5 separate regions of the Homo sapiens genome follow, and regions 1, 2, 3 and 4 are each reported to be linked to region 5. The links are microRNA targets in miRTarBase. Many come from high-throughput screens and were not tested one by one. Region 5 holds a microRNA gene; each other region holds the end of a gene's coding sequence.
What was found. Region 5 holds the annotated microRNA hsa-miR-3910 (AAAGGCAUAAAACCAAGACA, at 1,968-1,987, shown strand). A microRNA usually pairs through its seed, bases 2 to 8, with sites in the 3' UTR of a target mRNA and lowers its output. Matches are read on the target gene's strand: a 7mer-m8 pairs with bases 2 to 8, a 7mer-A1 pairs with bases 2 to 7 and ends in A, and an 8mer does both.

Region 1: miRTarBase lists ZNF460 as a target of hsa-miR-3910. The part of its 3' UTR that is shown has no 7-base or 8-base seed match.
Region 2: miRTarBase lists ZNF582 as a target of hsa-miR-3910. Seed matches in the 3' UTR shown: 7mer-m8 at 687-693 and 7mer-m8 at 1,689-1,695.
Region 3: the mRNA of CDKN1A is a reported target of hsa-miR-3910. Seed matches in the 3' UTR shown: 7mer-A1 at 4,418-4,424.
Region 4: miRTarBase lists GTF2E1 as a target of hsa-miR-3910. Seed matches in the 3' UTR shown: 7mer-A1 at 1,227-1,233 and 7mer-A1 at 1,756-1,762.

The regions. Positions count from the first base shown.
Region 1 is chr19:57,291,667-57,296,774 of GRCh38, forward strand. It overlaps ZNF460 (zinc finger protein 460), which reads left to right. Exons shown (of 3, transcript NM_006635.4): 3 at 1-2,403. The coding sequence ends at 564. Among named protein-coding and RNA genes, the nearest start is that of ZNF460, 14 kb to the left of the region's middle.
Region 2 is chr19:56,379,374-56,384,481 of GRCh38, reverse strand. ZNF582 (zinc finger protein 582) reads left to right here. Exons shown (of 5, transcript NM_001320371.4): 5 at 1-1,731. The coding sequence ends at 619. It also overlaps the pseudogene ZNF542P. Among named protein-coding and RNA genes, the nearest start is that of ZNF582, 12 kb to the left of the region's middle. RefSeq lists an enhancer at 1-821.
Region 3 is chr6:36,685,182-36,690,288 of GRCh38, reverse strand. CDKN1A (cyclin dependent kinase inhibitor 1A) reads right to left here. Exons shown (of 3, transcript NM_000389.5): 3 at 2,957-4,538. The coding sequence ends at 4,489. Among named protein-coding and RNA genes, the nearest start is that of CDKN1A, 9.0 kb to the right of the region's middle. RefSeq lists a silencer at 2,433-2,512.
Region 4 is chr3:120,780,781-120,785,888 of GRCh38, forward strand. It overlaps GTF2E1 (general transcription factor IIE subunit 1), which reads left to right. Exons shown (of 5, transcript NM_005513.3): 5 at 263-2,289. The coding sequence ends at 690. Among named protein-coding and RNA genes, the nearest start is that of GTF2E1, 41 kb to the left of the region's middle. RefSeq lists an enhancer at 453-502.
Region 5 is chr9:91,633,156-91,638,263 of GRCh38, reverse strand. MIR3910-2 (microRNA 3910-2) reads left to right here and starts at 1,919; the gene lies at 1,919-2,000. It overlaps MIR3910-1 (microRNA 3910-1), which reads right to left and starts at 2,013; the gene lies at 1,903-2,013.

The sequences.
Region 1 (5,108 bases), not on the chromosome of region 5:
TATTCCACCTATGTCCTGCATGAAAGAGCCCACACTGGAGAAAAGCCTTTTGAGTGCAAAGAATGTGGGAAAGCCTTTAGCATTCGAAAAGACCTCATTCGACACTTCAACATCCACACTGGAGAGAAGCCCTATGAGTGTTTACAGTGTGGAAAGGCTTTTACCCGCATGTCAGGGCTCACAAGGCACCAGTGGATTCATACTGGAGAGAAGCCGTATGTATGCATCCAATGTGGGAAAGCCTTTTGTCGGACCACAAACCTGATTCGACACTTTAGCATCCACACTGGAGAGAAGCCCTATGAATGCGTGGAGTGCGGGAAGGCCTTCAACCGCAGGTCACCCCTCACAAGGCACCAGCGGATTCACACTGCAGAGAAGTCCCACGAACCCATCCAGAGTGGGAACGTTTCTTGTGAGAGCACAGATCTCATTCAACACTCCATCATCCACACTGAGAGTAGCCCAGTGAGTGCAGTGAATATGGAAACGCCTTCAATTGCCGCTCATTCCTCCTCACTCGACATCAACGGATTCATAGTGGAAGAAACCCTACCATTGTAACAGATGTGGAAAGACTTTTTACGTACACTTCAGTCAACATCCAAGAATTCCTATTAGCGAAATAGTTTTTTAATATAACCACTGAAGAAAATCTGTGGTGAGAGGAAACATCTTACCATCTGGTCATTCATACTGAAGAGAAACTCCATAAGTATCATCTCTGTGGGAAAACCTGTTTTAGATCATCATTTGTCATCTAAACAATTATGTTAGAAATTGACACAGCCAAGAGTCTTATTCTACATCTGATAATTCACCCATGAAAGAGACCCAGTGGTTACTGTGCACTTAGGAAAACCTTCAGCCACATCTTTCTTATTAGTTTACAGTGAAATGTTATCTCAGGGACATTCAAACAAAGGAGGAGGAGTCATAGGGAAGAGAAAGAAATGGAAGCACAGCTTCTTTCAGACTTCCCTGACAAGCCCATGGCAATTTGTCATCCCCTCCTTATTTTATTTGGGAGAGGGAAATGTTTCAGAAACAAAAGGGCCTCATCCCCTTTATTTTCCCTGTGTATACATTCACTGCTGTCCAGTGCTGTAGACAAACGGTTTGTTTGAAAACATTTTGTGAAAGCCTGCTTTGTTCCACAGCATTGTCTCCACTCTTGAGGAGCAGAAGCATATATCTTTATGAGAAAGATGGAGGCTTGAGTTATGAAATACTTTTACATTTAAGGAGATAAAGGATGTACATATGAATGGGCACATTTTACTGCACACTTCAGACGCTTTGACTTTTTTAAAAAAATTGTTTCTCCGTGTGTCTTTAACCACCCAGTACCATACTTTTTTCTTGATCTGGATCTACTTGTCAATTTCTTCTTTATTTTTCTGTAGGATGGAGATGATATTGTAGCTGTTTGTACATAATGTAATCCAGGGAGTCCTAATTCTTCCCTCTGATTGTGGTTTCTCAGCTTTTTTACTGCTCTTTAGAGAGAGTAAATAGTTCAAAATTCACCTCAACAATTTTCTAGAGGTCAATTTGGAACCAAAAATGAAATAAGACATGTAGCTAAAGTAAGTTAAAAGATTATGATAAACTCAGAAAATAAACACAGAGAAGGAATCTCATTTTTCAGTCTTACAGAAGATTGTGTGAAGGCTGACTATACATAAAGTGACTGGAATTTTAACAGGTGAACCTGCATATGTATATGCAGGTAGTTGTCACCATGGATTGAGTCCAGTCGTAGTAATTAATATGTTTAATCAGAATATTTTGGAATTTCTCTTTTGGTATTCTTTTTGTTTCTTTTATTGTTTTTAATTGACAATGTTTATGGGGTTTGGTGTGATATTTCAATACATGTGTGCTAAGAGTAATGATCAAATCAGGGTAATTAGCATATCCATCTCAATCATTTATCATTTCTTTGTGTTTAGAAACATTCACAGTCTGCTTTTCTAGCTATTTGAAAATATAAAATGTATTATTGCCAATTGTACTCATTCTGCAGTGCCACAGAACACTACAACTTATTCAAATGGAATCTTACTTGCTGTAATTTTGTATTTGTTAACCAATCTCTATCTGCCTCTCTGCTGTCCTTCCCAGCCTCTGGTTACCACCATTCTCAACCTTTTATGCTTGCATATGAGTAGAAACATGGAGTATTTCTCTTTCTGTGTCTAGCTTATTTCACTTAATGTCTTTCAAGCTCATTCATGTTGCTGTGAATGACAGGTTTATTTTTCATGGCTGAGTAGTATTCCATTGTGTATATATGCCATGTTTTCTTTCTTCATTCATCTGATAATGGACACTTAGACTGATTTCTTAGCTATTATGAATAGTGCTTCAATAAACATAGGAGTGTAGATCTCTCTTTGACGTATAGATATATTTGTTTTTGCATATATGCCCAGTAGTGGTATAGATCATTACCAGTGGATCATATGGTAGTTGTATTTTTAACTTTTGTTTATTTTTCATTTTTTAAAATGGGGTCTTGCTGTGTTATTCAGGCTGGTCTCAGACTCCTGGGCTCAAGCAGTCCTGCACCTCAGCCTCCTGAGTAGCTGGGACTACAGGCACACACCACCGTGCCTGGCTATAGTTTTAGATTTTTGAGGAACATTCATACTGTTTTCCATATGGCTATACTAATTAGCATTCCTACCAGCCATATATAAGAGTTCCCCCTTTTCCATGTTCTCAGCAGCATTTTTTATTTTTTATCTTTGGTAATAGCCATCCTAACTGAGGTGAAATTATATCTCATTGTGGTTTTGATTTGCATTTCCCTGATTAGTGATGTTGAGCATTTTTTCATATACTTGGCCATTTGTATGTCTCCTTTTGAGGGATGTCTATTCACCTTATTTACCCATTTTAAAATCAGATTTTTTATTTTTATTTTTTTTGCTATTGAGTTCCTTTTATATTCTGGATATTAATCCCTTTCAGATGAATAGTTTGCAAATATTTTATCCCACTCTACTAGTTGTCTCTTCATTCTGTTGTTTCCTTTGCTGTGCAGAAGTTTTTTAGTTTAATATAATCCCTTTGTTTATTTGTGCTTTTGTTACCTTGATTTTCAGGTATTCATAAAATCCTTGCCCAGACCAATATCCAGAAGCATTTCCCCTATGTTTTCTTCTGTAGTTTCATAGTTTTTGCTCTTACATTTAAGCTTTCAAACCATTTTGAGTTGATTATCCTGAGAGCATAGATTCAAATTGCCCTAAAAATACATTCCCAATTTTTGTTTTTGCTTTTTAATTATTTTTTAGAGACATAGTCTCACCACATTGCCCAGCTTGGTCCTGAACTCCTGGACTCAAGTGAGCCACAACTCAGCCTTCTGAGTAGCTAAGATTACAGGTATGAGCCAGCATACTTGGTGTTTTGAGTTGATTTTTGTGTATGGTGAGAGATGAGTCTACTTTCATTCTTCTGCATATGAATATCCAGTGTCCCAGCACCATTTATTGAAGAGACTGTCCTTTTCCCAGTGAATGTTCTTTGTGCCTTTGTTAGAAATCAGTTGGCTGTAAATGGGATTTATTCCTGGGCTCTCTGTTTTGTTCCATTGGTTTGTGTGGTTTTTAAAAAATACCTGAACCATGCTGTTTTGGTTACCATCACTTTGTAGTATATTTCAAGGTCAGGTAGTGTGATGACTCCCATTTTGTTCTTTTTGCTTAGGATTGCTTTGGATATTCAGTATCTTCTGTGATATCATGAATTTTAGGATTACTATTTCTATTTCTGTGAAAAATGTCATTGGTATTTTGTTAAGAGTGCATTGAATCTGTAGATCACTTGAGGTAGTATGTTCATTTTTTTTCATAAGCTATCTCTTACAGGAAAGTATGTTCATTTTTATAGTAACCATTCTAATCCATGACCATGGGATGTTTTTCCTTTTTTATGTGTGTCCTCTTTGATTTACTTCATCAGTGTTATATAGTTTTCCATGTATTCTTATTTTATTTTTGTTGAAGTATTGTAAATGGGATGGCTTTCTTGATTTCTTTTTCAGCTAATTCATTGTTGGTGTATAGAAATGCTGCTGATTTTTGCATGTTGATTTTATATCCTGCAAGTTCAGTGAATTTATCAGTCCTAAGATTTTTTTGGTGCCACTTTTGGAGTTTAGGGTTTTCTATATATTTGATCCTGTCATGTGCATACAGGGATAATTTGACTTCATGCTTCCTGATCTGCATGCCCTTTATTTCTTTGTCTTGCCTGATTACTCTGTCTCAGACCTTTTGTACTTTGTTAAAAGGTGTGAAAGTGGGCATACTTGTTTTGTTTCAGATTATAGAGAGAAAGCTTTCAGCACTTTCCCATTATGCATGATGTTAGCTGTGGGTATGTTACTTATTACCTTTATTATGTTGAGGTACGTTCTTTCTATTATTATTATAATTTTTTTTAATTTTTTTTTTGAGATGGAGTCTCGCTCTGTCGCCCAGCTGGAGTGCAGTGGCATGATCTCAGCTCACTGCAAGCTCCGCCTTCTGGGTTCACACCATTCTCCTGCCTCAGCCTCCCAAGTAGCTGGAACTACAGGTGCCCACCACCATGCCTGGCTAATTTTTTGTATTTTTAGTAGAGATGGGTTTTCACCATGTTAGCCAGGATGATCTTGATCTCCTGACCTCGTGATCCGCCCGCCTCGGCCTCCCAAAGTGCTGGGATTACAGGTGTAAGCCACCGCGGCCGGCCCATTCTTTCTATTATTATGTGTAATTTGTTAAGAGTTTTCATCATGAGGGGATATTGAATGTTACCAGAGGCTTTTTCTCCACCTATGGAGATAATCACATTTTTTGTTCTTCATTCTGTTGATTTATCATGTTTATTGTTTTGTGTATGTTGAACCCATTCTTGCATCCCTAGAATGAATTCCACTTGGTCATGGTAAACAATCTTTTTGATGTACTTTTGGATTTGGTTGGCTAGTATTTTGTTGAGGAGTTTTGCATTTATGTTCATCAGGAATATTGGCCTGTAGTTTTCTTTTGCATGTGTGTGTCCTTATCTGGTGCTTGTGTCATGGTAATGCTGGCTTGTGGAGTGAGTTT
Region 2 (5,108 bases), not on the chromosome of region 5:
ATGCAAGGAATGTGGGAAAACCTTTAGTCATCGTTCTCAGTTGATTCAACATCAGACTGTTCATACTGGCAGGAAACTCTATGAATGTAAGGAATGTGGGAAGGCTTTTAATCAAGGCTCAACTCTTATACGACATCAGAGAATTCATACCGGTGAGAAACCCTATGAGTGCAAAGTATGTGGAAAGGCCTTTAGAGTGAGCTCACAACTCAAGCAACATCAGAGAATTCACACTGGAGAGAAACCCTACCAATGTAAGGTATGTGGTAGGGCCTTCAAACGGGTCTCACATCTTACTGTACATTACAGAATTCATACAGGTGAAAAGCCATATGAATGTAAGGAATGTGGGAAGGCTTTTAGTCATTGCTCACAATTGATTCATCATCAGGTTATTCACACTGAGAAAAAGCCCTATGAATATAAGGAATGTGAGAAGACCTTGAGTCATGATTCAACTACCGTTCAACCTCAGAGAATGCATAATAGAGAAACACATGTGAATATAATAAATGTAGAAAAGCCTTCCATCAGCAGTTACCCCTTACTAATCATCAGAGAATTTATGTTGGCAAGCAACCATATGAATGGAAGTAATGGGGAAAGCCCATTAGCCTAGGCTAATTGTGACTGTGACTTACTTCTCCCTCTTGGAGAAAGACTTGAAGAATGTAATGCCAGTGACAATGCCTTCATTCAGAGGTAAGCCTTTATCCTAAGTCTGAAAATTCATATCAAAGAAAATTTTATGGATGTAAATTGTTCAGATCATAATTGTCAAAAATGCTGGGAAAGGTTGGGAGAAATTTTATTTCTAACACATTCCAGAACCACATTTTCTAACCACAGTGTAGTAATTTTATCAAGAGCAAAAGTTATAGTTTTCTTACAAGTTAAAAAAACAGCCAGATTATCATTTGCTTAACAAAGAAATCATGCAATTACCATAAATGGTAATGAAAAGAATGAATTGAGAGTTTAACATGCCAAGAGATGTGAAATGTGGCCAAAGAGATGTGAGGGTAAGGGGAAAGCCAAAGCTACACTGGAGGAATTTTTATAGCCTTTGAATGCATGCATATACATGAAAATCTGAAAGATAAACTCATATGCACTAAACATGCTATTCAAGTCTACCAAACATCCAGGCAGTGAAAGAAGAAAGTAACAGAAAATGATGAAATAAAGAGACCATCTTACAATAATCTCAGTTTTTGTTTCTTTCTGATCCAGAAATAATCTAAATTTAGGAGAATATTTCTTAATTTCCACATTGTTACATTGTTTTATGTGACTGGCACAGACAACCATTGGTTGTCATCCCAGCAGCCATACCCAATTCCCCTTGTTATTGGCAGCATCTGTGTCTTGCCTTGGACTCTGAGAATATCAGATGCTAATTTTCCAGTCTCCTGTGCAGCACAGTATGGCCAGTATCTCCCAGTGTTGCTCAGTGGAATCTGCCGGGGCTTCTGGGAAAGATTTTCCTCATTCAGAAGAGACAGGTTTATCATGAAGACTTCCTCCTCTCTCACTTCCTGCTTTTAAACATTTTTATATAAGAACATGATGCCTGAAGCTGCTGCAGCTGTCTTGGAACCAAGAAGAGAAAAAAGTGGACCTCAGAGAAGCTGACCCAGAGCCTGAGAAGACTCAGCTACTAGGCCAATTCTGGAACTGCCTTTTTGATGCCTTGTTATCTGAGAAAAATAAAACTTGATTGCTCAGTTAGTTTTAGTTGGATATTTTGTAAATTCGCAGCCAAAAGCATCCTAAGTGATATAATATCTAATTTAATTTTATTATGGTTGGTAAATGTGGCCTGAAGTTATCTACTTTTTGAATTTTACTCTTTTTTTGGAGATGGAGTCTCGCTCTGTCACCAGGCTGCAGTGCAGTGGCACAACCTCTGCCTCCCGGGTTCAAGCGATTCTCCTGCCCCAGTCTCCCCAGTAGCTGGGACTACAGGTGCACGCTACCATGCCCAGCTAATTTTTGTGTTTTTAGTAGAGATGAGGTTTCACCATGTTGGCCAGGATGGTCTGGATTTCCTGACCTTTGTGATCCACCCGCCTCGGCCTCCCAGCACTTCCTATAAGTGCTGGGATTACAGGCATGAGCCGCTGTGCCACCCAGTTTGACTGTGTGTGTGTGTGTGTGTGTGGTTAAATACAAGATTGATTTCTGTATACCATGAACATTGAAAAAATATGTATTCTGCATTTTTGGATACAAGTTTCTAAATAAGTCCATTAAGCCACTAGATTGCAATAGTAAAAATCTCCATGTTTTCATATAATTTGGTATGCTGGATCAGAATTTCCTAAAAAAATGTTGCCAACACCTTGAGTTTCCAGACATTTACGCTTTTTAATTTATATTGTTTGACTTACAGGGACATACTACTAACCCTCTATTTATGAATTATACCTTTATCTTTACATAATATCCCATTTTGCCTAGTGCAGGGTATAAAAACCAAATCCAGCCCGCTACCTGCTTTATAAAGTCTGAGTGACACATTGCATTTATGGTCTACGACTGCTTTGGTTTCACTACAGCAGAGCTGAGTAGTTGCCACAGAGACTATATGGCCACAACACCTATATTTACTGTCTGGTTTTTTTGTTTTGTTTTTTGAGATGGCATCTCAAACTGGAGTGCAGTGGCACAGCCATGGCTCACTGAAGCCTCAACCTCCCATTCAAGCAGTCCTCCTACCTCAGCTTCCTGAACAGCTGGGACCACAGGCATGTGCCACCACGCTAGGCTAATTTTTAAAAAATTATTTTGTAGATACAGGGTTTTCTTATGTTGCCCAGGATGGTCTCAAACTCCTGGACTCAAGCAATTCTCCCACTTTGGCCTCACAAAGTCCTGGGATTACAGGTGTGAGCCAATGCACCTTGCCTTCTCTGTTTTTTAGTTAAGTTTGGGCCAGGCACTATGACTCCTGCCTGTAATTCCAACACTCAGAGGCTGAGGCAGGAGGATCACTTGATATCATGAATTCTAGACCAGCCTGGGCAACAAAGGGAGACCCTATCTCTACAAAGAAACAAAAAAGTTAGCCAGGTGTGGTGGCATGTGCCTGTAGTCCCAACTACTTGGGAGGCTGAGGTGAGAGGATTATTTGAGCCCAGGAGTTCAAGGTTGCAGTTGAGCTGTGATCATGCCATGTACTCCAGCCTGGGCAACGGAGCAACCCCTTGTCTCAATAAGTTTACTCTTATTGGAAGCAGATGACTTGCCATTGGCAAACTCATGTGCTATGAGCCAGAACCATAGATTTCTGAAGATCAATCTCCCCAGATTCTATTCTAAGCCTTCTACCCATATGGTAATTATGGCCCTCCTTGCGTTTGATGCTAAGAGCTATCACCTGGCTGCCATTATTCTGAGATCCTATCATTCCCATTGCAACTAGAGAGCCCAGTTCCTTAACAGCACCTCTTGCAGCCAGCCCTCGCCTAGGGGACAGCTACTATTGGCCATCTCCATGACGCTTGTTCTCCCTTGTATATCCACTTCTTTTGATCCCATCCTCATTTGTCATGGCAATTCTGCTATCTTCATTTTATTTAATGAGAACCAATGCTTTTTCCAAGCTTCAAAAACTGTCCCAGCATCCATTAGAAGCATCTTTTTCCCTTGCCAGTGTGTTAATCCTGTCATACAGTGACCCCATAGCAAAAAACTCTCCCCTATTCAACTTTGTATTCTACCTAATGATGCAGTAATCTCAGGATCTCCTCCCAGGTATACTCTTCTGGTTCTTGCTTGTACATGTTAGCCAGGTCCTACAGCTCCTTTGGTGTCTGAATCCATTTCTTACCACAGCAGTCCCAGAACTTCCCCAGTTTGGGACTGCTGAAATTTGACCCATTATTGACTTGGGGGAAAGATACTGTGGAAAGAAAGCATTGTTTTAAAGGGAGCATAGAGGGTATAGGGAAATCTGGGATTTGAGCAAGATGTGCAAATGCATATGCTAAGAAGTCTACATCCTGACTCAGAGTTGCCACTTCCTCCCCACTAAGTCTTTCCTCCTAAGACTGAAAGCAAAACAAGGGTGCCTACATTTATCACTTTCATTCAACACTGTCCTGGAGGTCACACAGCAATTGCAATAAGATGAGAAAAAAAAGAACAGCACAGACCAGAAATGAATACACTGTCTATTTGCACGTGACATGATTGCTTATGAAAAAAATCTTAAGGCCAGGCGCGGTGGCTCATGCCTGTAATCCCAGCACTTTGGGAGGCCGAGGTGGGCAGATCACGAGGTCAGGACATAGAGACCATCCTGGCTAACATAGTGAAACCCCGTCTCTACTAAAAATACAAAAAATTAGCTGGGCGTGGTGGCAGGCACCTGTAGTCCCAGCTACTCGGGAGGCTGAGGCAGGAGAATGGTGTGAACCCGGGAGGCGGAGCTTGCAGTGAGCCGAGATCGCGCCACTGCACTCCATCCTGGGTGACAGAGCAAGACTCCGTCTCAAAAAAAAAAAAAAGAAAAAAAAAAAATTTAAGAAATCTGTATGACAACTCCAAGAATAAGTGAAATGTTCAAGACAAGATGCAAGATAAATGTACAAAATGCTATTTTGATGTACAAGTAGCAAACAACTGGAAAAGTAAAAGACAAACGAATTTACATATTGTGAAAATGTCTATTAATAAACTTAAGAAAATACATTCAAGATCTCTATACAGAAAACTACAGGTATTTCTGAGAAAAATTAAAGGAGACAAATAGAACTTATGCTAAGGTTACAGACTGGAAGTCACTGCTGTTAAGTGTCAATTCTCTTCAAGTTTGTCTACAGACTTCATGCAATCTCAATTATAATACCGACAGGCTTTTTGGTAGGAACTGACAAGGTGACTCTGAACATTTATTAGAAAATGCAAATAAGCTAGAGTAGTGAGGCCAATTTTTATTTTATTTTATTTTTTAATCCAGAAAAGCATCACCAGGATTTTTTTTTTTTTTTTTAAGAGACAGGGTCTCATTCTGTCAACCTGGCTGGACTGCAATGGTGTGATCACAACTCACTGCAGCCTTGAACTCCTGGACTCAAGCAATCCTCCCACCTCAGCCTCCT
Region 3 (5,107 bases), not on the chromosome of region 5:
GTCTTTGGTCTGCAGGGCTCTGCAGCAGTGGTGTCCTTAGGGCAAGAGAGGTGAGCATTTAATGAGAGTCTTGCTTGACTTAACCACAAAAGATCAAGGTGAGTGAGCAGAGGCTGATGTCAGCTGCCGAGACAGAAAATCGCAATCTCTTACCTAGTTTCCAGCTTTGAGCCAGTTCTGACCCAGGACGCACTGATGGAAGAGAAAGATCCGTAATGCCACTATAAACATATAAAATAAACGTTTCCTTGATTCTTCCCGAAAGCACCCTCTGGCTATTTACCGGAATAGCTGTACAGTGTGGAACTGGGAATAACCAGATCATTTGAGGTCTGTTAGATAAAGGGTTTGAGCTTTCACTGCTTCTAGATGACCCAAAACACCATTATAGCCTCCTTTCAGAGAGGGGGACATAGAAGGCCAGATGGTAATAGAGTCCTAGCCAAGCTCATCTCCCAGTGAGTCTGTGGACCTACTCTATGGTTATTTCCTAGCCCTTGAGTACAAATTGGGATGCATAGCTTCACAGATAGTAGAACTCTCACATTCTGCCACATTCTCACGTTCTCTGTCATCTGTAGAATAAGAGCCATTATAGAAAGAAAGACCAAGTAGAAGTCTCTAAAATTATCCCGCTGGTCAAGGTAGTAAATCAGAAGCAATAGCATATCCCAGGTGGGTAGAAATTAGTGATTCCCTCAGAGACTTAAAGGATACTGAGGTGGTCCCTATAGTATCTCCATAGGATCCACCACATACTGCCCCTGTAAAAACCCACTGAAGCATGGTGATTGATGATTATCCACGGGGCAGCCCTAATCACAGCCATGATCAGATACCGTATCCTTACTAGAATAGTCTACACAGCCTCTGATGGTAAGAAGCCAATACTATGACAAGTGTGTTCTTTTCAATCCGTATCAGGAAAGGGGATCAAAAGTGGTTCACATCCACTTTCCCTACAACAATTTAGAGATCTATCAAATCATTAAAGTTTTAAGTGGTCAAATAAACTGGGGCATGCTGGGTCATTCCCTCTGTGGTAAAGGACAACTTAGTATATCTTGCACCTCTTACCATTTTTTTTTCTTTTTTTTAAATTATACTTTAAGTTCTAGGGTACATGAGCACAATGTGCAGGTTTGATACATAGGTATACATGTGCCATGTTGGTTTGCTGCACCCATCAACTCATCATTTACATTAGGTATTTCTCCTAATGCTATCCCTCCCCCAGGCCCCCACCCCCCTCTTACCACTTTTTAATTTGGGTTTCAGAGGCAGTGTACTAAAGATCACTCCAGCCCATTTATTGGATGATTTAGTAAGCTGCCATGTTTAAGCAGCGGCCGGAGCAAGAGAGGGCTCTGAAACAGGTGCAGGCTATGGGACAAGCACTTGGGTCACACGCCCCAGTGTATTCCCTGGTCCTGGACTTTTATCTGTGGATAAGTAGACAGTTGTGAAGTCCCTGGAAGTCCCCTCTGGCGGGGAGAGTCTCGTTTCAGAACTCTATGATTCTAGTAGAAAGCTCTGCCCTGTGCAGTAGAGAATTATTCCACATTTGAAAAGTAGTTCTGGGCCAAATTGCAGTGTTGGGAGCAAATAAATGATTATTGTTTTAAGCCACTCAGTCTTGGGGTGGTTAATTATGAATAGACAACCAGAAGATGCATGCAACAGCACCTTGTTTTTTGTAATGTTGGATAACTTTCCACTATATAAATATACCACAATTTGCATATCTATTCTGTTATGGACATTTCAGTTATTTCTAGCTTGGGTCTGTTAATAATAATGCTGCTGGAAGCATTCTTTTGGTTTTTTTCTTTTTGAGGGAGACAGACAAGGTCTCACTCTGTTGCCCAGGCTGGAGTGCAGTGGTGCAGTCAGGGCTCACTGCAGCCTCGACTTCCCAAGCTCCTCAAGTGATCCTCCCACCTCAGCCTCCCAGGTAGCTGGGACTACAGGCACGCTCCACCACGCCTGGCTATTTTTTTTTTTTTTTTTTTTGTAGAGATAAGAGTCTCGCTATGTTGCCCAAACTGGTCTCACACTCTTGGGCTCAAGCCGTCCTCCTGCCTTAGCCTCCCAAAGTGCTGGGATTATAGGTGTGAGCCACTGTGTAGAACATTCTTATGCCTTTTTCAGTGGAAATATGAACTCATTTCTCTCGAGAACATGTCCAGGAATAGAATTACTGGGTCATGAGGTAGCCATGAAGGTAGGCATCTTTAGAAGATATTACCAAACAGTTTTTTATTTATGTATTTATTTGAGATGAATCTCACTGTCACCCTGGAAGAGGCTGGAGTACAGTGGTATGATCTCAGCTGACTGCAACCTCTGCCTCCTGGGTTCAAGTGATCCTCCCACCTCAGCCTTCCAAGTAGCTGGGATTACAAGCGTGCACCACCATGCCCAGCTAATTTTTGTATTTTTAGTAGAGATTTCACCATGTTGGCCAGGCTGGTCTTGAACCCTTGGCCTCAAGTGATCTCCTGCCTCAGCCTCCCGAAGCACTGGGATTCTAGGTGTGAGCCACTGCGCCCGGCCCAAACAGTTTTTTTAAATAAGAGATCCAGTTGCTCCATAACCTTGCCAATGCTTGGCACTGTCAGTCTTTTTTAATCATTCTGGTAAGTGTATGGTGGTATCTTATTGTGGTATCTTAATTTGCATTTATCTGATGAATAATGATGTTAAGCTATAATATATTCTTTACAAAAAGATTACACAACAAACCAAAATATTGACATTGGTGATCTTTGCAGAGGTGTGACAGTAGTTTTTGTTTTGCTGTTGTTTTTTGCAGCAGTCTTTCTGTTTGCTAAGTTTTCTGCATTCTCTAAATTTAAATGCTTAATTTTTAAAATTATTTAATTATGAAATCCTTCCCAAAAGCCCATTTATTTGTTCTTATAAGGTATAATAACCACAATAGTAATATTACAAGTAAAGTCACTAAGAATCATTTATTGAGCACCTGCTGTATATTCAGCATTGTGGGAGGAGCTGTGAAAGACACAGAACAGTACAGGGTGTGGTCCCTGCCCTCGAGAGGTTTACAGTCTAGGTGGAGAAACGGGAACCAGGACACATGGGGAGCCGAGAGAAAACAGTCCAGGCCAGTATGTTACAGGAGCTGGAAGGTGTTTGGGGTCAGACCCCAATACTCCAAGTACACTAAGCACTTCAGTGCCTCCAGGGGCTCAACGTTAGTGCCAGGAAAGACAACTACTCCCAGCCCCATATGAGCCCACGTGGCATGCCCTGTCCATAGCCTCTACTGCCACCATCTTAAAATGTCTGACTCCTTGTTCCGCTGCTAATCAAAGTGCAATGAACTGGGGAGGGATGGGGTGGATGAGGAAGGTCGCTGGACGATTTGAGGGGCCAGTGTCTCCCTCCTAGAAAGATCTACTCCCCCATCATATACCCCTAACACAGAGATAACCCCACTCAAGGGGGCCTGTGCCACCACATGGGACCCTCACCCCCACAGCTAGAGGAGGGGGCGGTCGCTGCTTGAGCTGCCTGAGGTAGAACTAGGGTGCCCTTCTTCTTGTGTGTCCCTTCCCCTTCCAGTCCATTGAGCTGGGGGTGGGGGTGGGACAGGCACCTCAGAGCCACCTGGAGCTGAGAGGGTACTGAAGGGAAAGGACAAGGGGGAGGGACAGCAGCAGAGGGGAATTGCAGAGCCCAGCTGGAGAAAAAGGGTAGCTGGGGCTCCTCAAAAGGTACAGGGGAGCCAAAGAGGGAAAAGGCTCAACACTGAGACGGGCTCCCCAGTGCAGGTCAGAGGGGCCATGAGGGCAGGCGGGGTGGTCTGCTCCAGGACCCCACCTTCCCCCTGCCTTCACAAGACAGAGGGGGGTATCAAGAGCCAGGAGGGTACCAGGTCCCCAGCTCAGCCCTAGGCTGTGCTCACTTCAGGGTCACCCTGCCCAACCTTAGAGGAGGTGAGGGGACTCCAAAGTTTTTGATGATGCCCCCACTCGGTGAGGCCCCTTCAAAGTGCCATCTGTTTACTTCTCAAATGAAAAAGAATTCAGGTCTGAGTGTCCAGGAAAGGGGGTGAATTTCATAACCGCCTGTGACAGCGATGGGAAGGAGCCACACCCCTCCAGAGGGTACCACCCAGCGGACAAGTGGGGAGGAGGAAGTAGCTGGCATGAAGCCGGCCCACCCAACCTCCGGGAGAGAGGAAAAGGAGAACACGGGATGAGGAGGCTTTAAATAGTATTTCATAAAATAAAAATGCCCAGCACTCTTAGGAACCTCTCATTCAACCGCCTAGTTTTTGTTTAAATAATTCTAATGCCAGAGGCTGGGGGGCAGGGGGCGGCCAGGGTATGTACATGAGGAGGTGTTTAAATTAAAACACAAATAATAATTAAGACACACAAACTGAGACTAAGGCAGAAGATGTAGAGCGGGCCTTTGAGGCCCTCGCGCTTCCAGGACTGCAGGCTTCCTGTGGGCGGATTAGGGCTTCCTCTTGGAGAAGATCAGCCGGCGTTTGGAGTGGTAGAAATCTGAGGAGAGACAGCAGAAGTCAGCCAGGCCAAGAAGAAGAGGACGCGGCGGAGCTGCCCAACTGAGGAAGACAGTGGGGGGCCAGGACACCCTTCCCTGGGGCCAATGGGGCCGACTGCTGAGAACAGGAAGAACTCGGGGAACGTCCACTCTGTCTCTTGAGGGGTATTATGGAGTGTCCCACCATGCTTCACAGATGTGATTTTATCCATCACCGCACCCGCACCCATGGGTCTGCTCTAAGTCAAGCTGCCCAGCAGAGGAACCACTACTAGCTCTGTGTGCTTGTTTAAACAGACTACAATCAAATAAAATGAACAATTCAGTTCCTCAGTCACATGAGCTGTGTGTCAAATGCACAACAGCCGTATGTGGCTCGTGGCCCCTGTACCGGACACTCCCATCCCTGCAGAGTTACTGGACAGTGCTGATCTAGGGATTCTGTTACAAAATCCATGAAAGTGTTCAGCACAATGCCGGGCCCATATAAACGTCAGTAGTTGTTGTTATTATAATTAGTCTTGACCCAACGGCAAATTCACTTTGAGACCTTAGATAAATCACTCTA
Region 4 (5,108 bases), not on the chromosome of region 5:
CAAGATGCTTGTGTGTAGAAGAACCAGGATTCAAATCTATGCTATAATACTCTTAAAGCCAATGTACTTGACCATTATGCTACTTAAGCTCCAGTTTGTAAGAAATATTTTGAATATTTTATGGATAGCAGCTCAAAAATGGAACCAGTGAAGTCTGTTATTTTATCGTATTATTTAAATATATGTTAAAATATTGTCTATATGCTATAAAGAAATGCCATTTATATTTAAGGATATTGACTTTCTGAGTTTTACTCCCCAGGGGGCATAGATATGGACGCATTTCAGGAGCGTGAGGAAGGCCATGCTGGGCCTGATGACAACGAAGAGGTCATGCGAGCACTGCTCATTCACGAGAAAAAGACTTCCTCTGCCATGGCTGGTTCAGTGGGGGCAGCTGCTCCAGTGACCGCTGCCAATGGCAGTGACTCAGAAAGCGAGACCAGTGAGTCAGATGATGATTCTCCACCCCGTCCGGCAGCTGTGGCTGTGCATAAACGAGAAGAGGATGAAGAGGAAGATGACGAGTTTGAAGAAGTAGCAGATGACCCCATTGTCATGGTGGCTGGCCGTCCGTTCTCCTACAGTGAAGTGAGCCAACGGCCAGAGCTAGTGGCCCAGATGACACCAGAAGAAAAGGAAGCATATATAGCAATGGGACAACGCATGTTTGAGGACCTCTTTGAGTGAGCTTTCCCTAATTCTTTCTCCTTTCTCTAATGCTCAGTTCAAAAAGGAATGTCTCATCTTTGAAGAAAAGTATTTAAGTGGCTTTCTGCCCCTCTTGATGTAAGCAACTGTCCATCCTTGTGCAAAGATTGATGGTAGAGAGTTTGACTTTTATGCCAGAAACTTTCCCAGCAAGGTAGGGTGCTGAGAATCCTACCCTTCCTTGCTGTCACTACAGTATTAATATTTTACTGTATTTTCTTTTCTTTTTTTTTTTTTTTTGGAGATGAAGTCTCACTCTTGTACCCCAGGCTGGAGTGCAATGGCGTGATCTCGGCTCACTGCAACCTCTGCCTCCTGGGTTCAAGCGATTCTCCTGCCTCAGCCTCCCGAGTAGCTGGGATTACAGGTGCCTGCCACCATGCCTGGCTAATTTTTGTATTTTTAGTAGAGGCAGGGTTTCACCATGTTAGCCAGGATGATCTCGATCTCCTGACCTCATGATCCACCCGCCTCGGCCTCCCAAAGTGCTGTATTTTCTTATCTGATTTTTTTCTTGCCTTATTAAGACATAATTTTCTCCCTTCTGAAATGAGTGAGGGAAGTTCATAAGGTAAATCCTTCCCATCCATCTGTTTACTACAATAGGTTACAATAATTCACTGATCACATCCATTTTATCTGTTCTAGCCAGGCATTCCAAACAATTTCTTATACTGCTGCCCACCAAAGCAGCTTGCCAACAGTCAAATCACTGATTGGGGGAAAAAATCCTGAAATTTTGCTTAGAATTTGAGCATTTCCTCAAAATTGAGATGGATCAATATGTAAGGGGAGGTGGGAGCGTGTGTGGAAGGGGGAGAGATATACTTGAGTCTTATGATTAATGTCTAAACCAGAATTTGTGTCTTTAGAACTGACCAGACTGGTAGATTTTATTGTATTGCTTAATGTCTTTTGGTTTGGATTTAGGATGATAGAAAACAGAAGTATAATTGGTAAACCCTTAGGAAGAAATTAGAAAAACATGGACGTAAGACAAGAAGTCTCTGTGAAGGGTTGAAGAGTGACAAGCATTGGTAACAGTGCCTTAGAACTGTGTCAGTTAGTCTGATTTGGAAATCCTTTATGTAAAGCTGAGACTGGTCCTGGTTTTGTTCCCTTTGGGTACAGACCTCTTGTCAGTGCTATAAATTGTTTAATGAGGCCATTCCAGCAGAAATCAACAGAATAATTGATTACTCTTCTCTCTCTCTGTCACTCTCCCTCTTTCTAAACATCATTGAAGGCTGTCTCTCTTTTAATTTTTGTCAGACACAGTATTTTAGGGTGCATCCAGTATACCATTGAGCATTGTAACCTCAGGAAACAGTTTATTTTGGGTTCTGATATGTAGCATGGTATTTTCCCTAAGGCAGAACTTTAAAAATAAAGAACTTTCACACAAGGGTCTGTAACAATTGTATATCTTACAATATTTTTCCTTGCATTGTAATTTTTAAGTATTTATCATTTTATAGTACACATGTAAAGAATATATGAGCCTTGTATGGAGTGATGTTTCATTTACCTGGGTTGTGTTAATGACTGAATGTTGACAATAAATCTGTTTTATACTGACTGAAGTTTGTTCATTTTAAGTTCTGTAACATCTTGGGGCATATTAAAATGAATATTCTTCCCATTAAAAAAATGTTAAAGACTTTTTTATTAGTCATATTTCAAATGATAGATGCATATGGGATCTAAACTTTTTGTGCAATAAGATGCCTTTGTACCTTGTATACGTAAAGTATTCAACTTTTACACTTGATCTTAGCCAAAAGACCAAGAAGCAATGCTCTTCAGCTTTTAAACATTGTTTTTTAAACTTTTATAGTTCTAGAAGTTAATTTAAATAAAATGGTAATCAGATGTTAATTTTTAAAATGTAGTTAATTTTTTAAACTATTTTTTGTAAGTGTGTTCATGTATATGTAGAATTCGTGTTATGGGAAAATGTCACAAGTGAATATGGAGGTAAGAATAAAGGTATTCATTGCAGCAGTATTTGAAATAGAATAGAAAGATAGATATACTCACTAAATCTGTATTTAGTCCTAAGTACTCAGGAGGCCAAGGCAGGAAGATTGTTTGAGCCAGGAGTTCAAGGCTAGCCTGGGTAATGTAATGAGATCCCATCCCTCCCCAAAAAAGAATGTATTGAGAGGAAAAGATATCCATAATGTGTTAAATATAGGATTCAGTTTTTCTAGGGGTGTGTGTGTGTGAAGAAGAAAGTAGCTAACATATAGTGAACTGTGTGCCAGACACTATTTTAAGTGCTTTATATATGTTAACTCATTCAATCTTTTATAATCTGTGAGGTAGGTATACATATATAAATGTATATATATAAATTAGGGATGAGAATTACAGTGATCTTAATATATTATTATGAAAAAGATATTTTCATTTTGAAAAAGAATCAAACACATTTAATGAAAGAAATAGTAGAGTGTCAAAAGCAAGGTCTTTTTAGGTTGATGCTAGGATTTTTGGGTGAGTAGACCCTCAGTTAAGTAAAATGAAAAAATCCAGAGTTTATCATTTTCTCGGATAAACGTCTCTAAATTTATACTCAAAATCAATGGGAAGATATAATTTAATAGGTAACTACCTCCCTTTCAGTGACATCTAATAAGACTCAATAGAATTTATATTACTTTATCAGATAGGTTTGTCTCTTGAGTGGCACAATAATCTGGTGAGGAGAGACAGTCAGTGACAGAAGGACCAAAAATGGGAGCCCTGCCGATTAGCCTCTGAAGCTCTAGTAAGGGCAGGCTCACACCCAAGGTTGGTAGATACATGTAGTCACTGTGTTTCTTGACCCCAGGAAAACTAGAGTCACCACCACACACAGCCCATAAGTGATGATGGAGGAACTTGGTTTCCCTGAATGCGGTTGACTATATTCGTGTATCTCAAGTGTCAGCTGAACAAGTGTCCCAACTTTCCCACTGTCCTTTAAGATTTAAATAGAACTTTTTATCCTAACATGTTGGACTACTTCTTCTAGTATCATTTCTTTTGGGAGATGACAGTTCTTTTTTGCAGGTGGTAGGGGACCGGGGAGAGTAGGCAGGGAGCTTGTATCCTCTGGCTTCGCCTTTCTGCTTCCCTGGTTTTCCATCTGTCCTCTACACCACCTGTCCTTTACTCCCCCTAGTACCATCAACACAAGTTTGTGTAGCAGATCTTCCCTGAAGTTTTTACAGTAGTGAGCAAAGGGAGCGGGGCAATGAGGGGGATTTTTGTTTCTATGTTCCTCTTATTTTTAGTTGACACAATAATTGTACATATTTGTGGGATGCAGAGTGATTCTTTATCTCTTCCAACTTTTAGGCTCAGGGGTATATGACGTGCAGGTTTTCTGTATAGGTAAATTGCGTGTCATGGAGTTTAGTGTACAGATTATTTTGCCACCCAGGTAATAAGCATTGTATCAGATAGGTAGTTTTTCAGTCCTCACCCTCCTCCCACCTTCCACCCTCAAGAAGGCCCTCTTTGTGTCCATGTGTACTCAGTGTTTAGTTACCACTTATAAGTGAGAACATGGGGTGTTTGGTCTTCTATTCTTGCATTAATTTGCCTGGGATAATGGCCTCCAGCTCCATCCATATTGCTGCAAAAGACAGGATTTCATTCTTTTTTATGACTGTGTGGTGTTCCATGGTGTATATGTACCACATTTTCTTTATCCAGTCCACCAGTGATGGGCATGTGTTTTTATGGCAGAATGACTTACATTTCCTTGGGTATATACCCAGTAATGGGATTGCTGAGTTAAATGGTAGCTCTATTTGGGGTGTGTGTGTGGTTTTTTTTTTTTTTTTTTGAAACAGTCTCACTCTTGCCCAGGCTGGAGTGCAGTGGCATGATCTCAGCTCACTCCGCCTCTCAGGTTCAAGCAATTCTCGTGCCTCAGCCTCCTGAGTAGCTGGGATTACAAGTGTGTGCCCCCACACCTGGCTACTTTCTGTTTTGTTTTTTTTTTTTTTTGAGACAGAATTTCGTTCTTGTCGCCCAGGCTGGAGTGCAATGGCGCGATCTCGGCTCACTGCAACCTCCACCTCCCAGGTTCAAGCGATTCTTCTGCCTCAGCCTCCCAAGTAGCTGGGATTACAGGTGCGCACCACCACGCTCAGCTAATTTTTATATTTTTAGTAGAGAAGGGGTTTTGCCATGTTGGCCAGGCTAGCCTCAAACTCCTGACCACAGGTGATCCACCCGCCTTGGCCTCCCAAAGTGCTGGGATTACAGGTGTGAGCCACCATGCCTGGCCAATTTCTGTATTTTTAGTAGAGACAGGGTTTCACCTTGTTGGCCTGGCTGGTCTCCGACCTCAGGTGATCTGCCTGTCTCGGCCTCCCAAAGTGTGCTGGGATTACAGGTGT
Region 5 (5,108 bases):
AATTGAATATAAACAAGTGACTGACACATAGACCAGAGGAATTGCCCAGTTTAATCCTTGAATTCTTCACTCACAAAATTGCAAAATATCACTGTCATTTTAAGCCGCTAAATTTTTAAGTAGAACAATCTCCTTGTCTTTACTGGCCTTCGCCTCCATCTCAACTCTAATTCCACAGCTTTGATCCTGTCATTTCCTGGACCGCTTCAACACTGAACTGTCCATAGGCTGCAAACACCTTTCTATCTGTTCTTCCTCTTACTTACTTCACCATGCCAGAATTTAATATTCAGCAAACCTCATCACCCTAAACTCCTGAAGTTTTCTCCAGTCTGTCAGCTGATTCTTGGCTTTGATTTACTTCTTTTCTATCCTGTTCAAGCCACATAATGTATCATATCAATACTCTCTATCATGTTAAACTTCTGGGATCAATCCCTGCTCCCAGCCTGCAAATTCATATCTCTGGATTAGTCTACTTATTCACCTCTTTCACTTCTACACATAGGAAGCTGGAAGTTACTTGAGTCTTTGTTCTTTGGTTTTCTGCATCAGGTCCCTACAATGACATTTAGAAGATAAGACAGCACTGTCTTGTTAAGTAGGAATAAAGTTTATCAGGTAATTGAAAGGAAACAAAGAGAACTCTAAGTATCATGGAAGTAACAAGTGCTGGAAGCAGCTACCACCCATAGAACCTGGAAAACAAAGGAAAGAAGCTGCACTTCTTAAAACTTAAAATCTCAGAGGAGGGGACCCCTTGAGTCTGGGGCCTAGACCTCTGAGGAGAGGTGTCTGCCCAGCTTATCTTTTAAATGCCATTTTAGGGACCTGATGCAGAAAACAAAAGAACAAATGCTGGCATTTCAAAGTGTGTGTGTGTGTGTGTGTGTGTGTGTGTGTGTGTGTCTGTGTCTGTGTTTTACAGGGGAGTGAGACTGGTTTGGGGAATGTTGGGAGAACATTCAGGAACAAACTACTTATGGTGGAACAAATTACACTCTCAGAATGAAAAAGTAAAACATTTTTTTCTTTCTACTCCAGGCTTCAGTCATCCCTTTAGTGCCTTCTATTGATAGAGCATAAATGTGTTTGCAGAGCTCCTGCCCCAGCCTCATATACTGAAGGTAGAAGGATGGGCTTGAAGCTGGGAGACAGTAGCCTAACAGATAGTATAGTAAATTTAAGTAAAATACTTGTCGACAAACTTTGGTTTTGAACCCAAGATGGATAATTCTAAAATTGTTTTGAATCATGTTAGATGAATTTAACCCATTTATAATTATTATGATAACTCATATGTGTTATCTATTTATTCAGTCTTATTTTATGTTTTCTGTTTATGTTGCTTTATTTTAAAATTTTCTTTCTTTTCTTTCACATCTTTTGATATGTTTCCTTTTAAAAATCATATTATTCAGTAACTTGTAAATTAGATAGCTAATTCTATTATACTGTGTTACCTACAAATTAGAATAGCAATGATAACTACTTATTTAAAATTATATTTCTTTTCAATGGCAATAATAAAATTGGATAGGATGCTACTCCCACCAAAGAACAGAGGGCTCTGTTTTAAAGAAATTATGCTAAAACATAATTGGAAAATAATATGTATTCTAGTCTGGGAGTCTGTGTACCATGTCTTTCTCATTTTGACTCTTGGAGAGCCCAGTGTCAATGCCAGTTCCTTTTCTGCTTACCCAAAGAAAGCCCACCAGTCTATTTGCCCTGTCATGCCCTGCCCTGCCCAGAGCATCCAGCAAGAATTCCCATTCAGTGGTGAGACTGATGGAAAACAGACTAATGTTCTCAACAGCAGAGGAAACCACACCAGCCACCCTGGTCTTTTGATTTAACTAGAACTGAGCAACTGAAGACCAATTGGCACATAAGGAGAAACTTCTGTGATCAATCCTTTTTTTGTTGCTTGTCTTGGTTTTATGCCTTTTATGTGCCTTGATATAAAAGGCATAAAACCAAGACAAGCAACAGAAAAACTGACAGCAAAAGAAGAAGAGAATCCGAAGACATTAAAAATCCCCTTAATTGATGAATTAAAAGAGATTTTGGAAACATATCTAGATAACAAGAGCAAGATGTTACAAAAATGTGACAAAAAAACTGAGATCTTTAATAAAGAAAAATTAGGATTTAAAAAAAATTTCAATAGAAGGCCTGGAAAATCCAATGAGCTCCTTAGAGTCAGAGCAAAAAGAAGGAAAATATTAGAGAAGCAAAGGAAGTATAGAAAACCAATTCATCAGGCTTTTCAGAAAGAGTGAACAGAGAAAATTAAGAGAACAAAATTATATTTATTTATTTATTTTTTGTTGAGATGGAGTTTTGCTCCTGTCACCCAGGCTGGAGTGCAATGGCGTGATATTGGCTCACTGCAACCTCCGCCTCCTGGGTTCAAGGGATTCTCCTGTCTCAGCCTCCTGAGTAGCTGGGATCACAGGCACCTGCCACCATGCCCAGCTAATTTTTGTATTTTTAGTAGAGACAGGTTTTGCCATGTTGGCCAGGCTGGTCTCGAACTCCTGCCCTCAAGTGATCCACCTATCTCGACCTCCCAAAGTGTTGGGATTACAGGCATAAGCCGCTACTCCTGGCCCAAAATTATATTTCTTAAAAAATTAAAGGAAATTCCCAGGGCTGAATGATATGAATCCCCTATTGAAAGGGCATGCTGATTCCTGAGTGCAGTGAATGAGAAATGGCCCCAACTGATATACATGCTCATTAAATTTATGAGCACCAAAGGAAAAAAGAGGTTTCTGGAAACTCCCAGAGAGAAGTTAAAAAAAAAAAAAGAAAGACCCTTTTTAAAGGGATAAAGGCCAGATTGACATGAAACTCTTAAGACGAGGTAAAATATTCAATTTTTTTTTTTTTTTGAGACGGAGTCTTGCTCTGTTGCCCAGGCTGAAGTGCAATGGCGCAATCTTGGCTTACTGCAACCTCCGCTTCCTGGGTTCAAGCAATTCTCCTGCCTCAGCCTCCCAAGTAACTGGGATTACAGGTGCACACCGCCATGCCCGGCTAATTTTTTTGTATTTTAGTAGAGACGGGGTTTCACCGTGTTGCCTAGGCTGGTCTCAAACTCCTGAGCTCAGGCAGTCCACCCGCCTCGGCCTCCCAAAGTGCTAGGATTACAGGCATGTAATCTCTTTCTCCTCCTCCTCCTCCTCTTCCTCCCCCTCCTCTTCTTCCTCCCCCTCCTCTTCCTCCTCCTCCGCCTCTTCCTCCTCTGCCTCTTCCTTCTCCTCCTCCCCTCCTCTGCTACTTCTTCTTCTTCTCCTCTTTTTCTTCTTTTTCTCCTTCTTCTTCTTCTTCTTCTTCTTCTTCTTCTTCTTCTTCTTCTTCTTCTTCTTCTTCTTCTTCTTCTTCTCCTTCTCCTTCTCCTTCTTCTTCTTCTTTTCTTCTTCTTCTTCTCTCTCTCTCTCTCATTATTTCCCTACAGTTTCCACTCAAACAACTTTAGAGAGCACTTTTATTTCTCAAACCCAGGCTTTCATCTCATTTAACAGATTATCTGTTGAACATTTTACCAAATATCCTCTGGAATTAGTGACCAAATGATCAAGTAACATTAAAGAGTGTTGCTTTACTATTCTGTTGCCCAGAGTTTTCATTTGGGTAATATTTTTTTAGTGAGCTTGCCTGCCTTTAGAGAGTCTCATTCATCTTTTTCTAGTCTGACAACCTGTGGTAAATTTAGTCTTTAATATGTTTATGGGATGAAATAGACTGCATATTTAAGAGTTTCAAAATAAAAATAGCATAGAACCCTAAGGATATAGCTATAGCTATTAGGGAATAAAGAAGTATGGTATCTATCCTTGATAAACTCTGTCTCTGACTTCTTTGTGGAAAGTGTAATATATTTTGGGAGCATATGGCTCCATGCTAATGCTTATTAGCAAATGCCATAGCTTATATTGTTCTATGCCTTATAACCATTTCAAATGGCATTTGAAAGATACAATTTTAAAACAGCATTGGATGATATTCTTCAAGAGAAGGCACAATAAATTCACATAATAAAGCCACTCCTGCGGCTCTTATTGATGTGTGAGAGAGATTGGGGAAGGGAAGTCCTTGAGGGACTTCAGCCTTAGATAAGCCCTGTCATCAGATCTCATTCTAATAGAATGTAAGCACACTTATAACTGTTGACTTAAAAGGACTGAGTGGACCAGCAATGAACAAGAATGATGAGATTGGAAAACATAGAGCAGGATCACACTAGAATAGAAAAGAGCATCAGGAAAAAGTTGGAGAAAGATTCCTCTACCTCTATTTTTATTTTAAACTTTTGTGGAAGTGAGTGATTTACAGGGATTATTTGTTAGTACTTGAGAATGCCTGAGTGTTCTGGGATATGGTCTGACGCTCCTGGCCAGTTGAAATGAATGTGTCAACCTTAATGAAATCTCCATAGCAGTCTCTACTTGTTACAGTAACCTGTTCTGCCTATGTACACAGAGAGCAATTAGCCTGTATCAGACAGACACAAAAAGGTGGCGCAGCCCTGAGATGGAGAGGGTGTGCCAGGATAATGGCAAATGTAGGTGAAACCCTCAGACTAATTCTACAATAGGTCACTTGTTCCATCACTTTGTCCATTGGAAAGGAAGTGACTCTCAAGCTACATCTCATCAGGAAACCTGGAAGCTTCTTGACAAGAAGCCTTTGACTGACCTTCAGATGGTCATCTTGGCTTTTCACTATCCAGCACAGCAACCCCTTTCTACCTACTCTCATTGAAGCTCAGAATGGCTGCAATTTCTTGTTTGCCACACAGAAGCCTCAAGAGAGGTCCACTGACTCCCTGCATTCCAGATCTTCTCCTCCCATTCACACTTGTGGCAGCACCATCTTCTCATGACAGTCAGGGTCAATTAGTCCATCATGCAGTTAGTCTTTTCACCACGTGTGGGCTCACAGGTAAGAGCAGCCCAAAGTGCCCATGTGGCATTTGCAGCTGCAGGTGCAGCAGAATCCTTACTTGGCTCCTGGACAGAAGCACTGCCCAATGGGAACCAGGATTTCTAATACAGCAAACCTACGTTTACAGAAGTGGGAGGATTCTTTTTCTCTCC